Linked DNA regions of Homo sapiens: region 1 is linked to region 2. A link means that fine-mapping ties the variant in region 2 to the expression of a gene that starts in the linked region. Tissue or cell type: whole blood. Region 2 holds a variant in brackets; the other region holds the start of a gene. All regions are shown on one strand. Distances are between the middles of the regions.

Region 1 (2,682 bases), 63 kb after region 2:
CCCGGGGGACTTTGTTCTGTGCCACCCACCTCTGGACCCTGGGTCTGATGGCTGAGCTGCAGGCTCCAAGGTTCAGCGTCCAGTCTGGCCCTGCTCCGTCCATTCCCCACATTTGAGGGTTTCCCGGAGTTTGGTTCTGCTTCTTCCTCTCTTCCATGAAACTGGGGGCATTGCCCACGCCCCAGTGTCCCCCATCATCTGCCCGGTGGGGACTTGCCCACTCACGTGACTGCAGCCTGTGGGGCCTCCTCCTAGTGTCCCGAAGATACCTGGTCATCCTTGACCCCGCCCGCACCTGCCCGCGTGCCCCCTCGGGTTCTAGTGGAGGACGTGGCCCGCCTGCCACCCCGCCAGGCGCCGGGTCCTCCAGGCCTCCTCGAGCCACCTCCTGCCCACCTGGGATGTCTGTGGGTTCCCGGCCCGGATGCGTCTTGGAGCCTTCTACCCGCACCCCAATCTCCTGCCCCAACAGGCTGGGCCCCTCCTCCCGGGCTGGCCAGGCCAGCACCTCCGCAGGGGCCGCAGGACGCCTGAAGGCCCAGGCCGCAGGTGCAGGACCCTCTGCGGGGGAGCTGGGGGACATCACTCCTCTGCTCTGCGCGCTTTTATGAAAGGGCCTCTGACCCTCCGGGGGTCCAGCTCACTCTGCCCGCGCACTCCCAGGCATCTGGGGGCCGCCCCCCGCCCTCCCTCCCCGCGGCCCACTCGGCCCGCCCAGCTCGCCCCGTGCACAGACTCGAGGCCTCCAGGAGCGGAGCCAAACAGCCCCGCGGGGAACGCGCGCCGCACGCGAGCTGGACCCGCCCAGGCACGAACTCTCCTGGAAAAATGCTCCCGGCGGCTTTCCTGCTTCCTTTAGCGTGAACCGCGGGTGCGGTGCCTCCCGTGAAAATAATAAATTCACCGTCACGCTTGTTGTGAACGCGGGTGGTTCCCGAAACTTGGAGGCTTCCCGTAAACCCAGCTCCTTCCTCATCTGGGAGGTGGGTCCCGCGCGGGTCCGCCGCCTCCTCCCTGGCCCCTCCCTCTCGTGTCTTTCATTTTCCTGGGGCTCCGGGGCGCGGAGAAGCTGCATCCCAGAGGAGCGCGTCCAGGAGCGGACCCGGTGAGGCGCGGAGAGGGGCGGGCGGGGGAACCAGAGGGGCGGGCTCGGTGCTGGGGACTCGGTGCTGGGGACTCGGTGCTGGGGACTCGGTGCTGAGGGCCCGGTGCTGGGGACTCGGTGCTGGGGGCTCGGTGTTAGGGCCTCTTGGTGCACTGGGGTTGCCGGTCCGCGCAGGGATGGGGACTCTGGGGCTGCGGCGCCTCTGCCTCTGGGACCGTCACCCCCCGCTGGCCCTGAGCGTGCGTCGCAGGCCAGGCGGGCGGGGTCGCAGCGGGCGTACCCGAGTATGGGCGGGAACGAGCTGCCGGCCGGTGTGGGGACCCGCGTCCCTGCCCTGTGCGCCAGGCTCGACTCTTGAAGGGACAGAGGCGGCGTCTCGGACCCGGGGCTCCCCTAAGTCCGATGGGTCGGAGCCCCCTCCTCCCTTCCCGGTCCTCGGCCTCACCCGGGGTTCCCTGCGCCGTCGCTGCGACCAAGCTGGGAGCAAAACGCACTCGCTCATATGCGTGCACACAAGCTGGTGGACACACGCACATGAGCACACGCAGGCACGCGTGGACTGTTGCACACTCCACAGCCACAGCCTCGTGTGCACTCACAGCAAACTCATGAAACAGGAACCGTGAGGCTTCCCTCACCCGGCAGGCCCTCAGCTGCCCGTTCTCACGCGGGTTTTGCTGACTCCGCAGTAATCACCACATTCAGTTCCTTGCCCACTACTGGTGAATCACCTGCAGCTTGAGAAGCACGTTTTCTGCCGGTGGTCAGCAGAGGATCCCCGGCTTCTAGGAGGCCCAGGGCGACCGGCTGCAGGAGCCCGCGTAGGAGGCCTGTCTCCAGCAGGGCGGGGGTGGTGGCAGGGCCTCTCCACGGGGCTGCTGCTGAGCCCAGAGCGGGAGGACAGGAGGCCACCAGCAGAGGGGACAGGTGAACAGGTGCTGAGCAGGAAGGGTTAGCCCGGTCTAGCCCCAGGCCTGGGGGGCTTTGCTGCTCACCTGGGGTCCCCTCTGGGCCTGGCTCAGCAGAGACCAGGGCAGAGCCGTCCACACCGTGGGCCTGGGTGGGGTCCATGGCCTCTGCAGGCTGCAGCTGTCTTCTGAGAGGTGTTGGTGTGCTCATTCTCGGTAGAGACGTGGGGTCACCTGTGTTCCCTGAGCCCCTGCAGCAGCTGGGAAAGCAGTGTCAGCCACCCCTCAGGTGCTGTGGGGGTACAGAGTCCACTGACCACACAGGAGGACCCCAATGAACCCAGCCCGAGGGGGCCGGAGCTTCCACACACCCAGCACCCATGGGAGCCGGGACAGGCAGGCGCCCGGGGCACCAGGGAGCGGGAACAGGCATGCGCAGGCGTGCTGGGCGGTGCGTGAACTTTCCTAGGCGTGTCACTGGCATGGCTCCAAGCCTGCGCATCATCGCTTGTCAGGGAGCACTCAGACCCTGCCGTGTCTGGTGCCGGCGCCTCAGATACCGACCCCTGTGTTCGTGGTTTGAGAGAAATCTGATTGCCGCCTCCATCTTTTCCCGCTCTAGAAGTTTGTTTTTTGTTTTGTTTGGTTTGAGACGGAGTTTCGCTCTTG
Region 2 (2,682 bases):
CGCCCTGGTGTGTGTCACCTTGACAGGCACCATCCATTTCCCTCCCTGGTGTGTGTCACCTTGGCGGTCAGGGTCTCCCTCCCTCCCCTCTGGAGTGCGTTCACCTCTGTACCCTTCTCAAAGAGACTCGCAACCTAAGATTAGACGAGGCCCCAGCCCAGTGTCGGTGACCTAGTGCCCTCCTCGCTGGTGGCTGGAACCTCACCGGGTGGCTCTGCGGTGCCGGCTTCAGAACCCATCACACTGGACCTTGCAGTCCCAGAGTCCCAGAGCCCCAGCCATGCCCAGCCTGCTGCAGACACAGCAGTGCCAGTGAGCATTTGCCGAGCGGACAGTCATCCTCTGCTCCTTGAACTTGTGGGTAACACAAGCCCAGATCCTGGGGTGGGAGGGTGTGGGGAGTGGGGAACCCCTGTTAGGGGCCTCCTCAGGTGGAGCCCACGGCCCTGACCCCAGATGCAGCCGAAACTCGCATAGGCTTGGGAGCCCTGTGGACTGTGCCAGCACCATCCACCCCCCACTGCCTCACCCATCCCCAGGGCACTGCCCTCACCCCCCCCCCCCCGCTGCCTCACCCGTCCCCAGGGCACTGCCCTCACCCCCCACTACCTTACCCGTCCCCAGGACACTGCCCTCACCCCCTGCTGCCTCACCCGTCCCCAGGGCACTGCCCTCACCTGTGGGGTGGCCTCTCAGCACGGGTGTTCCTCCTGCCTGGCCGCTCAGTCAGACCAGGGACTGTGTGACAGTCAGGACTTCTTTCATCTCTTTTAAGATCTCCAGCTTGTTTATTTTGAGATTCCTGTTATTTGTACTTGCCTTTCTCAGGTTAGTTTACGACTTCAGTTTGCAAGCTCAGTTTGAGGGACTCTCTTTCCACGACCACCTGTGGCAGGTGGCCTGAGCTGCCCGGCCACTTCCTGCCATCCTGCCTCCCTCAGCTGCTCCCTGGCCACAGGCTGGACAGTTCCCGCTGTAGCCAGCGGCTGGCCAAGCCCACTCCCTGCAGCCGGCTTCAGGCCGTGTGTGCCGCAGCCCTGGGCACAGTCTCCCCTGGCGTGGATTGGGGGCGTTTGGCCTGACTGTGTCCTGGCCTCACTCTGCCTTCATGTCAGTTGTTCTGAGTCATCTCTGCATTAGGGGAAGGGTTTGGACGTCCAGCCTCTGCAAGCAGGAGCCCAGCCTGTCTGCCCTCACCCCAGAAGTCCCAGTCACAGCAGTTTTGTGGGAAAATGAAAAACTCACAGAGCACAAGACAGGCGTTTTCTTGAGAAGTCAAGCAGCTGAAGCCTCCTGGGACTCGAAATTACACAACTTTTTAGCATATTTTGATCTTAGTCATTTTAAGCATGATAAATACTTGAGTCAAACATTTTGTAT[T/C]ACGATCTTCTTTCAGATAATTAAAACAACCTGTCTCCTGCATGTGTCTGTCTAATTGTATCTATGTGTTTACCTGTGATTTGATGTCATACATGTCTAATTGTATCTATGTGTTTACCTGTGATTTGATGTCATACATCTAATTGTGTGTATCTGTGTGTTTCCCTGTGATTTGATGTCGTACATCTGTCTGATTGTGTGTATCTGTGTGTTTACCTGTGATTTGATGTCGTACATCTAATTGTGTGTATCTATGTGTTTACCTGTGATTTGATGTCGTACATCTGTCTAATTGTGTGTATCTATGTGTTTACCTGCGATTTGATGTCATACATCTGTCTAATTGTGTGTATCTATGTGTTTACCTGCGATTTGATGTCGTACATCTGTCTAATTGTGTGTATCTATGTGTTTACCTGCGATTTGATGTCGTACATCTGTCTAATTGTATCTATGTGTTTCCCTGTGATTTGATGTCATACATCTAATTGTGTGTATCTGTGTTTACCTGTGATGTTGTACATCTGTGTGTTATCTATGTGTTTACCTGTGATTTGATGTCATACATCTAATTGTGTGTATCTATGTGTTTACCTGTGATTTGATGTCATACATCTGTCTAATTGTGTGTATCTGTGTGTTTACGTGATTGATGTCATACATCTAATTGTATCTATGTGTTTACCTGTGATTTGATGTTGTACATCTGTCTAATTGTGTGTATCTATGTGTTTACCTGTGATTTGGAGACTTTTTTTTTTCTTTTGAGACGGAGTCTCGCTCTGTCGCCCAGGCTGGAGTGCAGTGGTGCGATCTCGGCTCACTGCAAGCTCCGCCTCCCGGATTCACGCCATTCTCCTGCCTCAGCCTCCCGAGTAGCTGGGACTACAGGTGCCTACCACCACGCCCGGCTAATTGTTTGTATTTTTAGTAGAGACGGGGTTTCACCGTGTTAGCCAGAATGGTCTCAATCTCCTGACCTCGTGATCCACCCGCCTCGGCCTCCCAAAGTGCTGGGATGACAGGCGTGAGCCACCACGCCCGGCCGTGTCGCAGTTCTTACCATGAGTGGCAAATGCTAGTTTTCTTTGTAGGGCAACTTTATCGAGGAAGGCAGAGTCCTGTGTTCGGGGGTTCCCAAGACCACCTTTAGGTCCAGTGACTCACTGTTGGGACTCACAGAACTCAGCAAAGCCATTATACCCTTGGCTGTAGTTTATTACAGTGAAAAGAAATGGATTAAAATCCACCAAGGGGGCCAGGTGGGGCGGCTCACACCTGTAATCCCAGCACTTGCAAGGC

The links. PIP is the estimated chance that this variant, and not a neighbour inherited with it, causes the effect.
Region 1: SECTM1 starts here. The variant in region 2 is fine-mapped to the expression of SECTM1 in whole blood (INTERVAL, PIP 0.97).

Annotation. Positions count from the first base shown.
Region 1 is chr17:82,332,123-82,334,804 of GRCh38, reverse strand. It overlaps SECTM1 (secreted and transmembrane 1), which reads left to right and starts at 1,039. Exons shown (of 5, transcript NM_003004.3): 1 at 1,039-1,105. RefSeq lists an enhancer at 1,733-2,535 and a silencer at 2,412-2,682.
Region 2 is chr17:82,395,285-82,397,966 of GRCh38, reverse strand. All of the region lies in intron 8 of OGFOD3 (2-oxoglutarate and iron dependent oxygenase domain containing 3), which reads left to right. It overlaps LOC124904090 (a long non-coding RNA gene), which reads right to left and starts at 1,086. Exons shown (of 3, transcript XR_007065956.1): 1 at 678-1,086; 2 at 206-379. The variant T/C (reference allele first, on the strand shown) is at 1,381.